Linked DNA regions of Homo sapiens: all the other regions are linked to region 1. The links come from fine-mapping of genetic effects on gene expression. A gene starts in region 1. Each other region holds a variant in brackets. All regions are shown on one strand. Distances are from middle to middle.

What was found.
Region 2: its variant is fine-mapped to the expression of ADA2 in whole blood (INTERVAL, PIP above 0.99).
Region 3: its variant is fine-mapped to the expression of ADA2 in whole blood (TOPMed, PIP above 0.99). The same link has a PIP of 0.9 or more in blood mononuclear cells.
Region 4: its variant is fine-mapped to the expression of ADA2 in caudate (GTEx, PIP 0.95).

The regions. Positions count from the first base shown.
Region 1 is chr22:17,216,102-17,222,005 of GRCh38, reverse strand. ADA2 (adenosine deaminase 2) reads left to right here and starts at 2,571. Exons shown (of 10, transcript NM_001282225.2): 1 at 2,571-2,650. RefSeq lists enhancers at 2,784-2,913, 2,924-2,993, 2,834-3,194.
Region 2 is chr22:17,172,233-17,178,136 of GRCh38, reverse strand. No RefSeq gene overlaps it. Among named protein-coding and RNA genes, the nearest start is that of HDHD5-AS1, 16 kb to the right of the region's middle. The variant TTG/G (reference allele first, on the strand shown) is at 3,300.
Region 3 is chr22:17,239,171-17,244,555 of GRCh38, reverse strand. No RefSeq gene overlaps it. Among named protein-coding and RNA genes, the nearest start is that of ADA2, 22 kb to the right of the region's middle. RefSeq lists enhancers at 728-987, 1,008-1,067. The variant G/C (reference allele first, on the strand shown) is at 2,272.
Region 4 is chr22:17,193,869-17,199,084 of GRCh38, reverse strand. All of the region lies in intron 4 of ADA2 (adenosine deaminase 2), which reads left to right. LOC107985573 (a long non-coding RNA gene) reads left to right here and starts at 296. Exons shown (of 2, transcript XR_001755419.2): 1 at 296-486; 2 at 670-1,024. RefSeq lists enhancers at 1-194, 195-699, 3,250-3,765. The variant A/G (reference allele first, on the strand shown) is at 2,800.

The DNA.
Region 1 (5,904 bases):
CTGCACTTGGCAAAATATTCTTCCCGAATGGCCTCACGTGTGCTCCCTATCATCACGCCTTTTCAGCTAGGCAACGCTCAGAGTCACACCTGAGTGGAGGCCGACGCCCCTTTGGAGGCGACTCCAGCCATAAAAAGTCCTGCTTGGAGCTGGTTTTAGCCACAGAGGGCCAATAAATGGCCCCTTCTGAATGAGGTGCCCCTGCACCTCTGCAGAGCCTGCTGCCAGCCTCCAGGATCTAACTGGGCTCTGATTCACCGCTCCCAACCCCACATCCAGGTAAGTGTGCCCAGCTCTTGTCTCTGCTTCCACCTCAAGATCTGAGTCTCCACTCCCCAGAACCCGGCAGGTTCTGCCTGACAAGGACCTGCAGTCCTCTGCCAGCTGCCACACCCTTGCCAAGGTGTGACTTGGAGTCCTGGAGCCACCTTCGGAGATGTGAAAATTAGCTCCTACTTTTAGCTAAAGCGTTTGGAAAGAAAAGCTTGATCTTTAGCTTTGACCTGGTCTTTAAAAAAACCCTTCAAGGGGAACATCACACACCAGGGCCTGTCGGGGGGGTCGGGGCTGGGGGAGGGATAGCATTAGGAGAAATACCTAATGTAAATGATGTGTTGATGGGTGCAGCAAACCAACATGGCACAGGTATACCTATGTATCAAACCTGCACATTGTGCACATGTACCCTAGAACTTAAAGTATAAAAAAAACCCACAAAAAACCCTTCACATGATTTACTTTCAGAATTGGTGGTTTCCCTTTGTGCGGCGCTGGAATCAATCTTGTTTCTCCTTATTACTTGCGGTGCATTCTGCTTCCTCTAACTTTCAAAAAATTAGTGTTAAACTCTTTTTTTTTTTTTTGAGACAAAATCTCACTCTGTCATCCAGACTGGAGTGCAATGGTGCAATCTCAGCTCACTGCAACCTCCACCTCCAGGGTTCAAGCAATTCTCCTGCCTCAGCCTCCCAAGTAGCTGGGATTACAGGTGCGCACCACCACACCTAATTTTTGTATTTTAGTAGGGGCTGGTCTCGAACCCCTTCCATTGTGATCCACCTGCCTCGGCCTCCCAAAGTGCTGGGATTACAGGCATGCACCACTGAGCCCAGCCTAGTCTTGAACTCTTGATGAGGGAATCCCTGACCCCTCTGTGTTTTCACTTTGGGATTTCTTCCTGTTTATTAAATGAATGACCTTGGTACTTTTTGGAGAAAATGACAAAAAGGAGCATCAAGGCTCCAGATGTATGGGAGCTGCAGAACTGAAACTGCCGTGGGCTTTTGGGGGTAGATTTGGGGTCTTGGGGGTAGATTTGAGTGGGACTGGGGAGGAGTGGGGTGCAATCGAGTCTTTAGACCATGCATGTGACATGGAGGTCCCTGGTGTAGCCTCCCATGTCTGCATTTCTAATTGGCTTGGATGAGGCATCCCAATAGTTACTTCTAAGAATAGTCATGGCTAATATTTATCAAGAGCTTTCTATGTGGCAGGTACTTTGCATGTGTTTTTCCTTTAATTCTGACAATGGACCCTCTGTGGTGGGTGCTTTTATTATCCACATTTTCAGATGAGGAAACTGAAGTATAGAGAGTTGAAACAACTTGGTCGAGGCCCCACTGCTACAGTGCTAAGGCCAGCTACAAAGCGAGGTCTGACTCTGACCGTCCTGGGTACAGGAGCCTTGTCTGCTCCACTTGTCCCTTGGAGCGTTGTTCTTGCTGGTCCTCTTCACACCCCAGCTCTTGTCTCCTACCTCCTGCCCCCTCTACTGTCCTGTCCCCGCATCCCTGATTTCCCCCCTAAAACATATATTTTATTATAGCTACTTTTTACTCTCTGTCTAATGGGTTGCCCCACAGTCCACAATCACATTTTGAGGAAGGAGAACTTCCCAGAGTTCATGAACAGATTTTGGAGTGCCTCTTTGCGGTGCTTGTTTCCAAAACCAACATGCTGTGGACCTTTCAAAGACACAGTACACACAAACACACACACACCCTCCCTCCAACACAAATAAACCCACATGCGGCCGGGCATGGTGGCTCACGCCTGTAATTCCAGCACTTTGGGAGGCCGAGGTGGGCGGATCACCTGAGGTCAGGAGTTCGAGAGCAGCCTGACCAACATGGTGAAACCCCATTTCTACTAAAAATACAAAAAATCAGTGGGGCATGGTGGCGCACGCCTGCAATCCCAGCTACTCGGGAGGCTGAGGCAGGAGAACTGCTTGAACCCGGGAGGCGGAGGCTGCAGTGAGCTGAGATTGCGCCATTGCACTCCAGCTTGGGCAACAAGAGTGAAACTCTGTCTACAAAAAAAAAAAAAAAAAAAAAAAAACAAACCCCACATGCACATAAACCGAAACACACACGAACACACAAACACCCACATGAACATGCGCACAAGCCCCCCACATCAAACTCAGATGCACACAGCAAGCATGCATGTAAGCCACACACTTGCCACTCTGGCTGCCTCAGCACTGCAGAGCCCCTCTCCCCGGCCTCTAGTTGGATCCCTGGTGCACACTGGAGGGAAATAAAACCTACCCCAACAGGAAGTGAAACAGTTGGTGAGCTTTTCCGGTGCTCTGCACAGATGCTGGGGCGCTGAGCAAACAGCCCTCAGTTTCTGGAGCTGTTCCGAGGTAACTGGGGTCCTTTGGGAGCTGTGGGATGATGAGGTTCAGGAGGTAGCTGGGAAGTCCGGAGCTTGGGCTTGATCCACCTGCACCTCTCCCTGTCTCCATCTGAGCTGGGTCTGAGACTCTCAGTGGAGGAGTAACAGGCTTTCTCCCAACAGGCTTTTGAAAATGGGCCCAAGGGCATTTACTCAGGACCACAGATGCATGTGGCCTACTCCACTGTCACCAGGCTGGAGTGTGGTGGCACGATCTCGGCTCTCTGCAACTTCTGCCTCTCGAGTTCAAGCCATTCTTGTGCCTCAGCCTCCCTAATAGCTGTGATTACAGGCACCCACCACCACGCCCGGCTAATTTTTGTATTTTTAGTAGAGACGGGGTTTCACCGTGTTGGCCAGGCTGGTCTTGAACGACTGACGTCAGGTGATCTGCCTGCCTCGGCCTTCCAAAGGGCTGGGATCACAGGCAGAGCCACCACACCCAGCCTCCTTTCTTCTTAGTCTGGAAGCAAACTACTTTATGAAGTTTTCATGCATCCTCTTTTAAAAGTAAAAGGAAAATCTTGTGGAGGAGAGAAGATGAAGTAGATATAGCAATAAATTGTGAATAAGGATTGTTTTTACTAGTATTCAACCAGGCAGGTCTTGACCACCATTAGATAAACTTCTGTCTGGCAGCCTGGAAAAGTTCACAGTTGCTGGGACACAAATGCTTTTGGGGTCCTTCTTGGAGAGGATGGAGTTGAAGATTTGGGAGCTTGATGGCCTTTGTTATGTGTCACCAGGGAGACAGGGACAAGGGGCGGGGCTGTTGATGGAGAATGTGGCATGGGGTAGGTGGGATGGTGACATAGAAGTCACCGTGCTCCTGCCCTAGAGATTTTAGTAGCAGGCAAACACCGTGGTCAAAAAAGAGAGTCAAGGACTTAATGAAGTTAAAGGGGTTCTGCTGACGTCCAGCACTCTGATTTTGGGGGTACAGCTTCTGCCATAACTGCATATTGCTGATACTAGTTCCTTCTTAAAATTTTCTTTGCTATCTGATGTACTACAGAATAACTGAGCTGGGAAGAATCTTGGATATTAAAATGATTTAATGAGTAGCAAACTTTCCATTTTTGTCATATCCTTGCACCTCTATTTACTTAATATTTTTCTTTAACTTAAAAATTTTTCAACAAAAACAATAATAGTTACGATATCATGGGTTTGATGTGCTAATACATGTTTTAAAATTACCTATCTGTCAACATAACCCCTATCCATTTGTGAGCCACCTAAGATTGTATTTATGCCACTGATGATATTCATGCTGCACTTGGAAAACCACTGATCTTGTCCAAGTTACCTTTTTTGTAGGTGAGGACACTGAGATCTGGAGACGTTAGTGATTTGCCCAAGGTTGCACAGTTAGAATGATACTAATTTGAGGCTGTTCCTAAGGTCTCCTAATTTACAGTCTTGACATGTTCCAGTATGCTGTATCATACTTTCAAGTGTAGAGAAACAATCGTTTTATTTTCATTTTAAAAATTTTATTTACGTATTTATTTTTGAGACAGAGTCTTGCTCTGTCACCCAGGCTGGAGTGCAGTGGTGCAATCTAGGCTCACTGAAACCTCCGCCTCCCAGGTTCAAGAACTTCTCATGCCTCAGCCTCATGAATAGCTGGGACTACAGGTTCAATACACCACGCCTGGCTAATTTTTGTATTTTGGTTTTGCTATGTTGCCCAGGCTGGTATCGAACTCCTGGGCACCAGTGATCTGCCCACCTCAGCCTCCCAAAGTGCTGGGATTATAGGCATGAGCCACTGCCCCTTCTTAAATGTAATTCAAATAGATAACCCAGGTAAAGGAGCAGCATAGAGCCTTGTGTGAGGAGATGCTGAATACATTTCCTTCCTTCAGTCCCTGCTCGTTGCCACCCTGAACTGGCTGCTCTCTGCAAGTTTTGATAATCCTTTCTAATGCTAATGCTCTGAAATACCAAGATGCTGTACCTTGGTGTGGCCACAGAATGATTGACTGTGCTGTGCAAGGTACTCAATCTAAAGACTGTCAGTTCTGGGGCAATTTCTTGTATTCCTTATTGGCTTATTTCCTTCACCTGTTTTTTTTTTCTTTTTCCTTCTGAAATGTCTGTTATTTGGGTGTTGGATTTCTTCAACCAATAATCATCTCATTTTCTTTTCTCCTATTTTGCTTTACTTTTAAAAATATTTTCTTTAACTTCATTTTTAATATTGCTAGTAAATTTTTAAACATTCGGCTTTGCTGTTTTTAATTTCTGAAAGTTCTTTCTAATTCTCATTTTTTTAATCACCTCCTGTTCCTGTTTTACACACACAATGTTTTATGTCTTTAAGGATGTTAATTACAGTTCTTTCAGGTTTTTCTTTTATTTCCTGTGTTGCTTTGTTTCCTCTCAGTTCCTTATCTCTGTGTGTTTTGTTTTGGTTTCTTTCTCAGTTTGAAGCATGTCTTATGATCTTGTGCTCTGGTTATATTTGTTATTTATTTATTTATTTTAACTTTAATCCATTTTATTTGAGTCTCTCTCTCTATATATATGTGTGTGTGTGTGTGTGTTTTTTTTTTTTTTGAGGTGGAGTCTTGCTCTGTTGCCGGGCTGGAGTGCAGTGGCACGAACTCGGCTCACTGCAACCTCTGCCCTCTGGGTTCAAGCAAGTTTCCTGCCTCAGCCTCCCAAGTAGCTGGGATTACAGGCACACGCCACATGGCTAGTTTTTGTATTTTTAGTAGAGACAGGGTTTTGCCATGTTGGCCAGGCTGGTCTTGAACTCCTGACCTTGTGATCCACCTGCCTCGGCCTCCCTAAGTGCTGGGATTACAGGCATGAGCCACCATGCCCGGTCTTAGTTACTCTGAAATATACATAATATTATTGCTAAGTATAGTCACCCTAGTCTACTATGAAACATTAGAACTTATTTCTTCTATCTAACTGTAGGTTTTTTTTTTTCCTGGGAGTGGGGCAGATAGGGTTTCACTCTGTCACCCAGGCAGGAGTGCAATGGCACCATCATGGCTCACTGCAGCCTTGACCTCCCAGACTCAAGTGATCCTCCCACCTCAGCCTGCTGAGTAGCTGGGAGTACAGGTGTGTACCACTACACATGGATAATTTTTATTATTATATTTATTTATTTATTTTGAGATGAAGTCTTGCTTCTTCCCCAGGCTGGAGTGCAGTGGTGCGATATCGGCTCACTGCAACCTCCGCCTCTCAGGTTCAAGC
Region 2 (5,904 bases), 44 kb after region 1:
ACAGGGGGTCACGCCTGTCATCCCAGCACTTTGAGAGGCCGAGGCGAGTGGATTGCTTGAGCCCAGGAGTTTGAGACCAGCTTGGGCAACATGGCCAGACCTCATCTCTACTAAAAATACAAAAATTAGCTGGGCATGGTGGGGTGTGCCTGTGGTCCTAGCTATTCAGAAGGCTGAGGTGGGAGGATTGCTTGAGCCCAGGAAGAGGAGGTTGTAGTGAACTGAGATCACACCACTCCACTCCAGCCTGGCCAATAAAGCGAGACCCTGTCTCAAAAAAACAAACAAAAATAACAACAACAACAACACAAACCTCTAACATTCTCTTTGCCCAGGTTCCCCCAGTTATTAACATTTTACAACATTTGATTCCATATATCATTCTTTCTCTGTTTCTAATTGCTCTCTCTATATATCCTATTTTTTTTAACCACTCGAGACTAAGTTGCAGATATTATGCCTTTTATTCCTAGATTCTCCAGTGCACATTTCCTAAAGACAGTGACATTCTCCTATGGAGCCACAGTACATCCAATCAAATCAGAAAAGTATTAACATTGAAAAGACGCTAGTATCTGGCTCTGGCCCTGCTGAGCTTTGTTTTGTTTTGTTCTTGGTCCAGAACCCAATCCAGGATCACAAGTTACATTTAGCTGTCAACTCTCTAGTCTCTTTCAGTCTGAAATAGCTTCTTAGTCTTCCTTTGTGTTTTGGAACCTCATTTTTGAAGAGTACAGGCCAGTTACTTCATAGACTATCCCTCATTTCAGGTTCATCTAATGTTTCCCTAGGAAGAGGCTCAGGGGATACCTTTTTGAGAGGAGCACCTTGGCAGCGAGGCTTTGTCCTTCTCAGTGTACACACCAGGGGCACATGAATGGGGCCAAGTGTTATACTTCCAGCTTGTTGTTAAACCTTTAGGAGTCTGGAATTGGTCTTGATGGGAATTTTTTTTTTTTTTTTTTTGAGACAGGGGTCTCACTCCATTGCCTAGGCTAGAGTGCAGTGGCAGGATCGCTGTTCATTGTAGCCACTACCTCCTGGGCTCAAGCAATCCTCCTGCCCAGCATCCAAAGTAGTTGGGACTACAGGCGTGCACCGCCACCTCGGCTAAGTTTTCTTTCTTTTTACTTTTTGTAGAGATGGGATCATGCTATACTGTCTAGCCTGTCTCAAACTCCTGGCCTCAATCCATCCTCCCGCCTCGGCTTCCCAAAGTGCTGGGATTACAGGCATGAGCCACGACACCAGGCTTGTGGGAGTTTTTGTGCCACAAAAATCAGCAAATGTTACAAATCCATGTCCCCACCAGCCAGCTGTTACACATTTGCCAGCATACTGATGCATACAATGTTAATTTGTCTCAATATGATACTGACTTTGATCGCTTAAGTTGATTTCTGCCAGAATTTGCCATTGCGAAGTTACCATTTTTCCCTTAGTAATTAACACATATTTGGAGAGGAGACACTTTATGTAAAAGTCTTCACTCCTCCTTAAAACTTTACCCATTAGTGCTTGCATCCACTGAGGACTTTTGTCTAAATCTGCTATTACTATCATGGTTGCTGTTCCGTTTATTGCTGTGTAGCAAATTATCCCAAAACGTAGTGGTTTGAAACAAAAATAAAAATTTATGGGGCCAGGCGTGGTGGCTCACATCTTTAATCCCAGCACTTTGGGAGGCCGAGGCGGGCGGATCACCTGAGGTCAGAAGTTTGAGACCAGCCTGACCAACATGGGGAAACCCCGTCTCTACTAAAAATACAAGATTAGCCAGGCATGGTGGCGCACGCCTGTAATCCTAGCTACTTGGGAGGCTGAGGCAGGAGAATAGCTTGAACCCGGGAGGCGGAGGTTGCAGTGAGCCGAGATGGTGCCATTGCACTCCAGCCTGGACAACAAGAGTGAAACTCCATTTCAAAACCAAACCCAAAACAAACAAACAAATTTATGATCTCTCCCAGTGTCTGTGGGTCAGGGGTTTGGGCAGAGCCCAGCTGGACAGTTCTGCTCTGGGTCTCTCATGAGGTCCTTGTCACAGTGGAGGCAGAGCTGGAGCTGACGGGCCGCCAGGGGTCACCTCTCTGCACAGCCCCAGGGCTCAGCTGGTGCTCTCCTATGGCTAGTTTGGGCTTCTTCCCATTGGCCTCAACTTCTGGGGTAAGTATTCCACGGAATAAATGGAAGATTCTGGAAGTCACATGGCATTATTTCTGCCATACTTCGTTGGTCCCAACAGTAACAAAAAACACCTCCTGGTTTTAAGCGGAGGAGACAGAGATCCCAACTTTTGATAGAAGATTGTCAAAGTCACATTATAAAAAAGAATATATAGGATAAGAGAAGTCGTTGGAAAATATTTTGGAAAATACAACCATCAAATGGTGATTTTTTTTTCCTTCCTTCCTTCTTTTTTTTTTTTTTTTTTTCTTTTTCTGGGTCTCGCTCTGTCACCCAGGCTAGAGTGCAGTGGTATGATCACGACTCACTGCAGCTTTGACCTGTTGGGCTCAAGAAATCCTCCAGCCTCAGCGTCTCAAGTAGCTGGGACTACAGGTATGCATCACCGCAACCAGCTAATTAAAACTTTTTTTTTGATACAAACAAAGTCTCACTATGTTGCCCAATATGGCTCAAACACCTGGGCTCAAGCAATCCTCTCACCTCAGCCTCCCAAAGCATTGGGATTATAGGCGTGATCCACTGTGCCTGGCCAAAATGGTGATTTTCTAATTCTACCATTTCTTCCATATTAGTTGCCATTTTGCTGCAAGGAAGAACAATTCCTTCCCTCCCAGCTTCCTTTTTTCCTTTTTTTTTTTTTTGAGACAGAGTTTTGCTCTTGTTGCCCAAGCTAGAGTGCAATGGTGCAGTCTCGGCTCACTGCAACCTCCACCTCCCAGGTTCAAGTGATTCTCCTGCGTCAGCCTCCCAAGTAGCTGAGACTTCAGGCGCCTACCACCACGCCTAGCTAATTTTTGTATTTTTGGTAGAGATAGGGTTTCACCATGTTGGCCAGGCTGGTCTCGAACTCCTGACCTCAGGCGATCCGCACGCCTCGGCCTCCCAAAGTGCTGGGATTATAGGCGTGAGCCACTGTGCCCGGCCCCTTTTTTCCTTCTAGCTGTACGACTCAGGGATTCAGGTTGTATTCAATGAGCTATAATCCATTACTAGCACTATTTATTGTGATGCTTACACTATTCCAGATCTGGCCATGGGAGCCCTGTTAAGTTGGCTGCTGATAAAGTTCTATAATTGAGAACTTTCTTACTTTTTCCTTTTTTTTTTTTTTT[TTG/G]TGACAGGGTCTTGCTCCATCCCCCAGGCTGGAGTACAGTGGCACCATCACAGCTTATTGCAGCCTTGACCCCACAGGCTCAAGAGATCCTCCTACCTCACCCTCCCTAGTAGTTGGGACTACAAGCACGTACCACCACGTCTGGCTAATTTTTGTATTTTTTGTAGAGATGGGGTTTTGCCATGTTGCCCAGGCTGGTCTCAAACTCCTGAGCTCAAGCAATCTGCCCACCTCAGCCTCCCAAAGTGCTGGGATTATAGGTGTGAACCACTGCATCTGGCCATTCTTCCTTACGCAATAAAATGTTCTACCTTCATTTTGTACTTTCCCTGTGTCATGCCTGAGCTCAGCCATTTCTCCAGGGAGCTCTGTTCCTTTCAGTAGAGAATAATATTTAGTAGCCCTGATCTAGGCACTAGATGTGCTCATTGTTACTGGAGTGTGTGTGTGTGTGTGTGTGTGTGTGTGTAGACACAGAAATACAATTTATGCATATTAAAATGGGAATATTATGGCCAGGCATGGTAGCTCATCCCTGCAATCCTAGCACTTTGAGAGGCTGAGGCGGGTGGATCACTTGAGGTCAAGAGTTCGAAACCAGCCTGGCCAACATGGTGAAACCCCGTCCCTACTAAAAATAAAAAAAATTAGCCAGACATGGTGGTGGGCACCTGTAATCCCAGCTACTCAAGAGGCTGAGGCAGGAGAATCGCTTAAACACAGGAGGCGGAGGTTGCAGTGAGCCAAGATCATGCCACTGCACTCCAGCCTGGGCGAGACTCTGTCTCAAAAACAAACAAACAAGCATCCAAAACAAAACAAATAAAAAAAATGGGCAGGAAGAGGGAAAGAGTTGAAAAAAGAAGAGAAAACGATGGAATTGTTAGACTGGAAGTGGCCACTGGAATGGAAAGAGTTGAAAAAAGAAGAGAAAACGATGGAATTGTTAGACTGGAAGTGGCCACTGGAATGGAAAGAGTTGAAAAAAGAAGAGAAAACGGTGGAATTGTTAGACTGGAAGTGGCCACTGGAATGGAGGGCTCGGCTACCTTAGCAGTGCTCCCGAAGCTGCCATTTCAGAGGAAATGTGTGTTAGTCAGATTTTATTCTTTTTTCCTTAAGAAGACCCTTCAAATATGTATAAACCTCAGGACTGCCCCAAAATCTGGATCTGCGCCTGCTCTAGATCAGCTCTTCATTTGGAAGGAGGAAAGCGAGGTGGAGGTGTGTTCGTTTGAAAAGACTAGCTGAAAAGAGAAAACTTACAGGAGCCTCAGCTTGTGAGGGACCTTGAAAGACTATGCAACCAGCCTCACCTTCAGGAAGAGCAGCCCGAGACTTCCTCAGGAAGATGTCCCTGTTTCTTTTTATTTTCTTTTTTTTTGAGACTGAGTCTCACTCTGTCGCCCAGGCTGGAGTGTAGTAGCATGATCTCGGCTCACTGCAACCTCCACCATCCCAGTTCAAGTGATTCTCCTGCCTCAGCCTCCCTAGTAGCTGGGATTACAGGCACGCGCCATCACACCTGGCTAATTTTTGTATTTTTAGTAAAGTCGGGGCTTCACCATGTTGGCCAGGCTGATCTCGACCTCCTGACCTCAAGTGATCTGGCTGCCTCGGCCTCCCAAAGTGCTGGGATTACAGCCGTGAGCCACCGCACCCGGCGCCTGTTCCATTCTTAAAGCTCACCAGAACGCGATTCTGTAAACTGCTTCAGCCACCCATTCCGGAATCCCAAATGACGCCTTCCCATGGTCAGGATTTCAATGAGTGGTGCCATCCTTGGCTCTCACAGGAACTGATCCCTTGGGGAGGACTGTATGAAAATGCATCTGTAAGCTCAGATGAAGTCAGCATGCTAGGGTTGGAAATATTATTTTCACATACATAGTCTAGGTTACTTAATTTATTGTTTTGAGACAGGGTCTCACTGCCCAGCCTGGAGGGCAGTGCTGTGATCATAGCTCACTATAATCTTGAACTCCTGGGCTCAAGGGACCCTCCCGCCTCAGCCTGCCTCTCCAGTAGTTGGGACGACAGACGCGCACCACCACGCCCGGCTGTTTAATAGAGATGGGGGTCTCCTTTTGTTGCCCAGGATAGTATTGAACTCATGGCCTCACGTGATTCTCCTGCCTGTATCTCCCAAGGCACTGGGATTACAGGCCAGAGCCACCTTGCCAGGCCAGTATGTTACTTTAAATAGCAGTCATCCTAAAAATAGCTTACCCTCCTCTGTCCTTCCCTGCCTGGAAAGGGTGTAAAAATAACATTTGGGGGCTGTAAATGCTGTCTAGATCTCTGGAGCTAGGTAGGTGCAGAGGTGTGATTTGGGTTTGGCTGTGCTCCGAAAAAACCGGGGCCGAGCTGCTGGTTTTGAATTTGTCCAGGCTTTTTAGCCAATAGCCTCTTCCTCCGCCGGGAAGGGGTGGGACCCAGCCTTCCAAAACACCTTTGCTGAGGAACCGTGCAAAGACCTTGGATGAGGGCCCCAGCTCAGCCAGGCCTCCCTGAAGCGAAGCCAGCCCGGGGTGGGGACTGGTGGAGGGACTAGAGTTTCTTAGATTCACAGAATAGCAGAGCTGGGAGAGGCCTAAAGACCA
Region 3 (5,385 bases), 23 kb before region 1:
CTACAGGCGCCTGCCACCACGCCCAGCTAATTTTTTGCACTTTTAGTAGAGATGGGGTTTCACCGTGTTAGCCAGGATGGTCTCGATCTCCTGACCTCGTGATCCGCCCACCTCAGCCTCCCAAAGTGCTGGGATTACAGGTGTGAGCCACCGCGCCCGGCTCAGACAGGTTTTTAAGATACTGCTAATATAGCACTTGGAATGAAGGCACTCTGGCTGTCACTAGGGCGTGGTCAGTGCCCAGGGACTCCTGCCCATAGAGGAATGAAGCCCTACCCAGAGGCACCCTCTGCACGCCTGTGAAACCCCAGCAGGGGCTGCCACATTCCCTGGGTTATGGGTGCGGCAATGTGAACCGGGAATAAAACCTGGGGCCTTTCAGAGTGGCAGAGGAGGCTGAAAAGAGGTGGAGAGAGCCCAGCTGCACTCACGGGCCAACACAGACCCCTGGTCTAAAAGGAGTCCCCCAGAACGGGTCAGGCCAGAAATCCGTTCTAGTCCTCAGTTCCCCATGTTCTCTGTCCTCTGTGTCTCTCGCCAATTGCATAGGCTCCTCTTGTCTTTCTCTCCTTCCCTCCCCTGCCTGCATCTTCTCAACAGATGCCCTGTGCCGTCAATAAGTAGCCACGGGCCCCCCAAGCAAACAGGGGCATTCTCACCAGTATCTGAGTGCTCCCAAAGGGCTGTGGGGTCCGATCAGGTGGGAATGGGGCACAGATGGGGCTCATTCGCCTGGCCTGTTGGTTGAACTTGCCCCCTGGGGTGTGGCCATAGAGTTGTGGTGGGGAACCCCTTTTTCATGTACCCTGAGTAGGGGAAGCTGTGTGGAGAAAGTGGGGGGTAGGACTCTGCTGAGCAGGGCGAGGCCCACGGTTGTCTCATGACATTAGAAACATGAAATGAAACTCAAGGTCCTGAGTCATCCCTGTGACTGAGGCTTTTGGACTGGCTTTTTTTTTTTTTTTTTTTTGAGACGGAGTTTAGCTCTTGTTGACCATGCTAGAGTGCAATGGCGTGATCTCAGCTCATTGCAACCTCTGCCTCCTGGGTTCAAGAGATTTTCCTTCCTCAGCCTTCCTGAGTAGCTGGGATTACAGGCACGCGTCACCACGCCCGGCTAATTTTGTATTTTTAGTAGAGACAGGGTTTCTCCATGTTGGTCAGGCTGGTCTCGAACTCCCAACCTCATGTGATCCGCCCGCCTCGGCCTCCCAAAATGTTGGGATTACAGGCGTGAGCCACCGTGCCCAGCCTCGGACTGGCTTTTACCATTTTGAACAGAAAGTCTGCAGCGTGAACAATGGCTCAGGCTGATGAATGCCTCAGTCTAAGTGATTTAGCTGGTGCTGACCCGCTCCCTCATTGATCTTCCTCATTCCCAATTCCAGCAGCAATTGAAGTCTGCACCACACAATTTAGAACTCAGTTGTATATCACCTGCTGCTGTTCCTGTTGTTTCCTATGAGTTGGTCTTGCCTTTCCAGCAAGAATTACAAGCTCCTTCAGGACTGGGATCAAGTTTGTTTGATACTCCTTTAACCTCCAACGCCACTCAATAAATACCCCTTGATTAGATCAGATAATATCTGCATTGCAGTGAGCCAACTTGGCACAGAGAGGCACTCAATAAATGCTTGCATGAAGGAGTGATTTTTTCTGTTGACAAAGGACAAGACAGATCTTTCTGAAATTTTGCAGGAGGTACTTACATCTAAACTTGGTCTGCTGATTATGACAAATCTCAGCCCCCTCTTCTGAAATCACTTCCCTCAACTAGTGAAATAGGTTGGTATTAGTATTCCATACTTACAGTGTTGCTGGCTGAGTGGTGTCTCCCCCAAAATTCATGGGTTTGTTTTGTTTTGTTTTGTTTTGTTTTGAGACAGAGTCTTGCTCTGTTGCCCAGGCTGGAGTGCAGTGACACGATCATAGCTCACTGAGCCTCGACCTCCTGGGCTCAAGGGATCCTCCCATCTCAGCCTCCCAATGTGTTGGGGTTATAGTTGTGAGCCACCACTCCTGGCCCAAAACTCGTGTGTTGAAGCCTTAATGCTCAGTACCTCAAAAGGTGACTGTACTTGGAGATAGGACCTTTAAAGAGGTGATTAAATTAAAAGGAGGCCCTTAGGGTGGGCCTAATCTAATCTGACTGGCGTCCTTATAGGAACAGGAAATTCGGAGTGGGAAGAGACAGCAAGGGTCCTTGTTGGCACACTGAGGCCTCAGAAGAAACCAAGCTTGTCAACACTTTGATCTTGGACTTCCAGCCCA[G/C]GGAACTGTGAGGAAATAAGTTTCTGTTTTTTGAGTCACCAAGATTGTGATATTGTGTGATGGCAGCCTCAGCCAACTAACACAGAGAGAAGTTGAGGTCTCCAGAAGGGAAGTATCTTCTGTCATGGAGTAAGCCTCTAAGCTGTCCAGAATTCCCCCAAGGTCATGTGTCCCTAAGTGCGGGCACTCCCACAGGGGTGCCACAGTCTAGCCGTGTCCTGGATTTACTCCTTCTTGTGCTCCCTTCATACCAAGCCAAGGGTCTCTGTCTCCGTGGGGCATTCTCCCCTGGATCCTGGCCACTCCACACCCCTCCCCACCCTCTCACATTCCCACCTCCACATCCCTGCAAGCACCCATGTGAGATGTGCCCTGCCACACTGCAAGGAAGTGCAAGGCTCACATGGTGTTTTGTTGGGGTGACTCCAGAGAGCCTTCTTCCAGGGCTCCATTCTCTTTGCATGGGAGGACAGCATCAGGCAGTTCCATCCACGGGCTGCCTAGTCTGAGCAGTTGCTAGCGTCAGGGTAGGGCAGACCTCTGAGGCCAGGCCAGTGGGCGGGCAGAAGCCACGCTCCCAGGCACCAGCCAGGAAGCTGGATCTAGGGGTGGGCATGTGGAGGTGGGAATTCCAACAACGTCTGGGAGAAAGACAGGCGAGGCACAACAGTCAGAGGACCAGAAAGAAACCAATGAGTGGAGGCCTGGTCGGGCCATCTGGGCAATTGCCTGTTTGTTTAAGAGATCCAACTCTGAGTGTATGGAATTGAGAGACCTGGGCCCAAGGGGCAGAGGGTAGGGGACTCCCATGCAGTTTATGCCCTGGAGTTCTTTTTTTTTTTTCTTTTGAGACAGAGTCTCACTCTGTTGCCCGGGCTGGAGTGTGGTGGCATGATCTCAGTTCACTGCAACCTCCACCTCCCAGGTTCAAGCGATACTCCTGCCTCAGCCTCTGAAGTAGCTGGGATTACAGGCGCCCGCCACCATGTCCAGCTAATTTTTTTGTATTTTTAGTAGAGACAGAGTTTCACCATGTAGGCCAGGCTGGTCTCAAATTCCTGACCTCATGATTTGCCCGCCTCAGCCTCCCAAAGTGCTGGGATTACAGGCGTGAGCCACTGCGCCTGGCCAACACCCTGGAGTTCTCTCTCGTGTATCTGTCAGATTTTGTTTGCCCCCTTTCTCCTACCTGCACCTAGAAAACTGTTTTTCACCTGGATTCCCGTTTTCCAGTGTCAGCTATGTGTCACACTTTGCCAGCTTTTGCCCAACCACGTAGGATGTGATCTGAGCACACAAACACCTTCCAGGTTTTAAAAAACTGTTCAGTTAATCATTGCAGGCACGTCTTGGTTACTGAGGCTGGCCTTTGTCTGGAAGTGTCTTCTAGGTAGACTTTGACTAGCAGAGAGTAGCACCTTTGAGGCTGGTGTGGATTGCCTCATTGCATGGTGCCCACCTTCCGTGCATGGCCCCTCAGTGTGATACCCAGGGGGCTTTGTCTGCGGGTGGGGTGTGATAGCAAACCTTCTGTGAAAGGGAGGCTGCCACTCCCCTTCGCTACCCGCCACTTTGATCTAACCTAGCTGGGTGCACTGTTGTCCTTGGTTTGCTTCTACAACACTGCAGTTTCTGTGTCACCTTAAGCCCTTGAAACCTAGTGACCGACCTTCTGAAATGCCTCTGCAGCTCCATCACTCATCCTAGAAAGATGGCATTATCCATCCTCAAGGAAGATATCCATCCTAAAGAAAGATTCAGCTAGGATATACAATGCTTCTCAAACTTGACCATGCACGAGGATCACTGGAGGGGTGGTTAAAGCAGATTCCTGAGTCCCCGCCCTGGAGTTTCTGAGTCGGGAGGTCTGGGAAGGTGAGGCTGCTGAGTCTGGCCAGGGGCCATACTCTGAGACCCACAGAGCTAGGATTACAAACTGTGCCATCTCTCTGAGTGTGTGCGACTGAACACTTGCTTTTAACCATTCTTTCTCAAACACTCTCTTGCGAATGTTGAGGAGAGCCTGGATCAGGGTCCTGGATAAGAGCTGACGAAATAGCACCAACAGTGGGTCTCTGGGCCTAGTTAGCCCTGAAATGTAGTTGGGGCTGAGCCTGATATTTCACAGGCTGCTTCTTGACTCATGTTTGAAAATTTTTTTTTAATCCAGTGTGATTTATTCTTTCTTTGAGACAAGGGCTTGCTCTGTTGCCCAGGCTGGAGTGCAGTGGCACAATCATAGCTCACTGTAGCGTTGACCTCCTGGGCTCAAGTGATCCTCCCGCCTCCCAAAGTGCTGGGATTAGAGGTGTTAGCCACCACACCCAGCCAAACTCTAACAAAATACTGTAGAGAATAAATCACAATAAAGCAGGTGCAGTGGCTCATGCCGGCAATCCCAGCACTTTGGGAGGCCAAGGCAGGAGGATCGCTTGAGCCCAGGAGTTCAAGATCAGCCTAGGCAACATAGCGAGACCTCATTTCTACAAAAAATTTTTTCAAAAATTAGCCAGGCATGGTGGCACGTGCCTGTGGTCCCAGCTGCTCAGGAGGGAGACTGAGGTGAGGGGATCCCTTCAGCCTGAGAGGTCCAGGCTCCAGTGAGCTATGAATGTTTGCACCATTGCACTCCAGCCTGGTGGGGCAGAGCAAGGCCCTGTCTCTAAATTAAAAAATAAGAAGTCCAGGGAGGCTCAGCTGAGTTCTCTGTTTAAGATCTTGCAGGCTGAGATCAAGGTGCTGGCAGGGCTGCATTCCTGACCGGAGGCTCTGGAGGAGTCTTCTCCTACACTCATGCAGGTTGTGGGCTAACGTCAGCTCCTGGAGGTTGTGGGACTGGGACCCCTCTTTCCTTGCTGGCTGTCAGCTGGGGAAAAGTCTCTGCTCCTGGAGGGTGCCTGCTCTCCCTGACATGCTTTCTGTCAGCCGTGAGTCCCTCCCACCCTTCAAATCTCTGGCTTTTTATGTTGAATCTCTCAGGCTCCAGCCATATACAGCTCTGTGCTTTTAAGGGATCATGGGATTAGATTGGGTTCACCTGGATAATTCCGGCTAATCTCCTCATTTAAAGGTCCATGACCTTAATTAGATCTACAAAGTTCTCTGTGCTGTATA
Region 4 (5,216 bases), 23 kb after region 1:
GGAACAAAGGCTTTTGCCACGGAGAGTCTAGGTCTTAATGCCCCCCATTAGCCAGAGTTGGGGGGCCACCAACACATTAACAACTAAAAACAGTCTTCACTAGAATCCTTTTGCTGAGCCCCCTCGCCTCCCCCTGCCTGGTCGCAGGCTAATTCCGGCCTGGGCTGCTGTGGACGGACTATCCTGGCCGCTGAGCCTCCCATTGTGTTCCTAATGCTCAGTAACAAAGGCTGCTCGCCGGTAGCAACGGTCGCTAGGCGGGTCTTATCTCCTGGGCTCCGGCCCCTTCCCCCACGGCAGAGTCTGAGGCCCAGACTGGGTCCCCTGAGTCTTTAGCATGGGGCTCTTCCAAGACCCCGGAGGGTTATCCACAGGGGATGGCCCTGCTGGCACTTATGGAGGGGAGAGCTTATGGGAGACACGTCGGTGGCAGAGAACCTGTGACAGTCGTTCCCAGACGTTTTCTAAGACGTTGTCGTTCATACAGTAAGCATTTCTAGTGCTCCCTGTACCCGCGCTCCCCAGCCCCCATGCTTTTGCCTGGATTCTTAGCAGACCTTTCATTCAAAATTCCATTTGGCTCCTTGCTGAATGAAGCGAACCCTGTGTCATGTTGCTGGTGTCGCTTTACGAGAACACGCACCCTCTTAACTGCTCCCTTTTTGACAGGACTCATCCGACTATGCTGTCATTGTGCTATTTACTTGTCTGTCGATTGGAACAGTGGCAGATCTTCAGCCCAGCTGTATATCGCACCCTAGCACCACCTGGGAGATTACAAACACCAAGCTTCTACCCCACAGATTCTGATTTGGTTGCTCTGGGGTGGGACACAGGCATTTTTCCTCTCCTTGAGTGATGCCAATGTGCCGCCAGGGCTGAGATGTCACTCTAGTGACTGTCACCTTTCTACAGGAGGGGGCAGGGGCCTCCTGATGACAGGAGACAACTCAGGGCAAGCAAAATTCTGAAATGTGGTCGGCCTCCAGCCCCACTAATTATGCAGGGGTACTGAGTTTCTCAATTTTTTTGTTTTTTTTTTTTTTGAGACGGAGTTTCGTTCTTGTTGCCCAGACTGGAGTGCAATGGTGCAATCTTGGCTCACCGCAACCTCCGCCTCCCGGGTTCAAGCGATTCTCCTGCCTCAGCCTCCCGAGTAGCTGGGAATACAGGCATGTGCCACCACACCCGGCTAATTTTCTATTTTTAGTAGAGACGGGGTTTCTCCATGTTGGTCAGGCTGGTCTCGAATTCGTGACCTCAGGTGATCCGCCCGCCTTGGCCTCCCAAAGTGCTAGGATTATAGGCGTGAGCCACCGTGCTCAGCCTTCTCAAACTTTTAAAGCCTCAAAATCCTTATCTGTAAAATGAGACCTACCTCATAGTGTAGTTTTGAGGGTTAAATGAGATTATGGCATAAAGCCCCCTGCATATGCCTGGCATGTAGTAGAAGCTCAACACTTCTTAAGTGAATGATACTCTGGTAGTGAAAGCTGAGTGAAACTGCCAGTACTGGCCAGGTGCAGTGGCTCATGCCTGTAGTCCCAGCACTTTGGGAGATGGTGGCAGGTGAATCCCTTGAGCTCAGGAGTTCGAGACCAGCCTAGGCAACATGGCAAAACCCTTGTCTCTACAAAACAGGACAAAACAAAATAATTAGCCAGGTATGGTGGTATGCACCTGTGGTCCCAGTTACTCAAGAGGCTGAGGTGGGAGGATCACCTGAGCCTGGAAATTCAAGGCTGTTCAAGATCATGCCACTGCACTGCAGCCTGGGCCGCAGAGTGAGACCCTGTCTCAGACAAAAAAAAAAAAGAAAAAAAAGAAAGAAAGAAAAAAAGAAATTGCGAGTCCTTGTTTCTGTTCTGATACAAACCAGTTGTATGACCTTTACAGCACTCTGCTCCCAAATTTCCCCATGAACCAATCTGTCGTCCAGGCTGGAGTGCAGTGGTGCGATCTTGGCTCACTGCAACCTCTGCCTCCTGGGTTCAAGTGATTCTCCTGCCTCAGCCTCCCGAGTAGTTGGGATTACAGGTGCCCATCACCATGCCCGGCTAATTTTTGTATTTTTAGTAGAGACGGGGTTTCGCCATGTTGGCCAGGCTGCTCTTGAACTCCTGACCTCAGGTGATTCGCCTGCCTCGGCCTCCTAAAGTGCTGGGATTACAGGCATAAGCCACCATGCCAGGCCTCAGAGATCTTCTTTTAAGCAGAGTTGTCATTTGTTAATATTTTTTAAAGGTTATTTCTTTGGTCTCCCTTCTATTCTGCTGGCATGACTCCACCTACCACTCCGCCAACAACTGTCTATTTGCCCTTGCTGCCTGGGCCTTAGTACTTTTAAAACTCCTGTGGACAGCACTCTCCTTGAATTAATATTTATTTATGGAGCTCCTGCTCTGGTGCCATAGGAGAGGAGGTGGGGAGAGTAAAACTGCAAGGACTCTACCCTGGAGGAGCCTCCAATCTAGCTGGGGGGTGTGGGCAGGAGACTCAGTAATGACAGGGTGGTCAAGGTCAGGACAGAACCCTATTCTTCCCTGCTGTGAACCAGCTGGATGAGTCCAAGACAACTGCAGGTAACAATTGTGGGTTGGGTTAACACAGTGGTTCTCCAACTTTCTGGTCCCAGAACCTCTTTATATTCTTAAAAATTTTTGTTAATTTCAAACGCCTTTTATTTATGTGGATTATATCTATTGATATATCCTGTATTAGATGTTAAAATTAAGAAATTTTCCTTTTTTTTTTTTTTTTTGGGATGGAGTTTCACTTTTGTTGCCTAGGCTGGAGTAC[A/G]ATGGCACACAATCTTGGCTCACTGCAACCTCCGCTTCCTGGGTTCAAGTGATTCTCCTGCATCAGCCTCCCGAGTAGCTGGGATTACAGCAAATTTTTGTATTTTTAGTAGAGAAGGGGTTTCACCATGTTGGCCAGGCTGGTCAACTGACATCAGGTGATCCACTCGCCTTGGCCCCCCAAAGTGCTGGGATTACAGGTGTGAGCTATTGCACCCAGCCAAAATTAAGAAATTTTCTTGCCGGGCGCAGTGGCTCATGCCTGTAATCCCAGCGCTTTGGGAGGCTGAGGCGAGCAGATCATGAGGTCAGGAGTTCAAGACCAGCCTGACCAGCATGGCGAAACCCCGTCTCTACCAGAAATACAAAAAAATAGCCAGGCGTGGTGGCATGTGCCTGTAATCCCAGCTACTCGGGAGTCGTGCTTGAACCCAGGAGGTGGAGGTTAAAGTGAGCCGAGATCGCACCACTGCACTCCAGCCTGGGTGACAGAGCGAGACTCCGTCTCAAAAAAAAAAAAAAAAAGGAAAGAAATTATTCTAAATACAAACACATAATCCATGATTGGCATTATCGGTCAGAATGATATGACACATGATGCAGCTTCAGGAAAATTCTACTGTACATCCATGAGAGAATAAGAGTGAAACAGACAGTGAACCAAGATTGCACCACCACACTCCAGCCTGGACGACACGGCAAGACTGTTGCAAAATAAAAGTTTAAAAAAATTTTTTTGTTTTGTTTTGTTTTTTTTTGAGACGGAGTCTTGCTCTGTCGCCCAGGCTGGAGTGCAGTGGCGCGATCTCAGCTCACTGCAACCTCCAACTCCCGGGTTCAAGCGATTCTCCTGCCTCAGCCTCCCCAGTAGCTGGGATTACAGGCGCCCACCACCACGCCCGGCTAATTGTTGTATTTTTAGTAGAGATGAGGTTTCACCATGTTGGCCAGGATAGTCTCCAACTCCTGACCTCAGGTGATTTGCCCGAGGTGATCTGCCTCCGCCTCCCAAAGTGCTGGGATTACAGGCATGAGCCATCACACCCGGCCTAAGAATTTGCTATGTGCACAGATAGATGCAGGCCTTCCTTGAAAAGACGTGAAGCACCAAAGAAGTTAGAGTGAGGGCTTATATTCCATTTTAACAACTGGTAATAAATTGTGAAGAAGTGACAAGATGAAGGAAAAGGGGTTTGGGCTTCTAGGGACAGTAAATTGTGGGCAGGCAAACATATGGGGGAAACTAATGGAAGATAAGGGCAATTTTATAAGGCTGGTTTGTGCAGACCCATCTTGGTAACAACTTTCTGTTTCCGGTGGTAAGGGTGATTCTCCTGGTACGGGAGAGGGGAGGGCGACACCTTCACAAAGGGAAATTTAGGCAGATGAGGTGGGCAAAGAGCTCTTTCTTCATTTGCTGCTTCTTAATTGCCTTCAGCTAAAAATATTTCTTCTGCTAAAGTGGCCTATTGGGTGACATATTCTGACCCTCTTCAGTAAATAATAATAATAATAGACAATACTAGATCCTGAATGAACAGTACCTAAGGTTCTTCCTTCTGGCACGCTCTGGCAGCCTTAAAGTTCAGTAGCCCCTGAGCATGGCTGTGCCAGGTCAGGCAGTCAGGGAAACTGCCCGAGCAGAGTGAGTGGCCTGGCCAGGTGCAGGTTGTGGGGGGCTGTGTGACGTGCCAGGCTTCATGGGGGCAGCAGAGGAAACAGAAGAGCAAAGACCAGTGGAGAGCCTCACTGCCTGCTCCCCCACTGCGCCTGCCCAGGCAGCGGGGCAGCACCCTGGAGATGAGAGAGCAGCAGTACTGTTCTGCAGGCCTGGGGGAATGCGGGGATCTGAGGGACTGCCCAGAGACAAAGGACACACAATGGCCGCAGCCTGGAGGGGTGTGGGAGGCCCCTAGGCTGGGGAGACAGGAGTGAGGCAAGGGGCTGGTGGGAAATGAGCAGAGGAGGTGGACTCCCAAGGGCCCATTTCCTGAGATGCCACAGAGGCAAGAGCCGACTCCCGGGAGGAGGAAGGGCATTTCTCCCTTAGTGAGGGGACAGCTCCTGGCTCCCACTGCAGCTCTCAACCTCGGCTCCTTGAACCCCCGCCCCCAGGCAGCTCTTGACTCTGTGTGGAGCCACCATTCCCTTGGTCAGGACTAGCAACCTTCTCTGACCCATCCAGTCACAACAAACTGCTTCTTCTTTTGAGAGGTCATGTGCTTCTCTTTAGCACTTATTCTATTGTTTCTTTTTTTTTTTTTTTTCATTCCTTTTTACAGACAGGAACTCACTCATTGCCCAGGCTGGTCTTGACCTCCTGGGCTCAAGTGATCCTCCTGCCTCGGCCTCCCAAAGTGCTGGGATTACAGGCGTGAGCTCTTTTTAGTGGGTCAGGTCTATCTCTCTGACCCTATT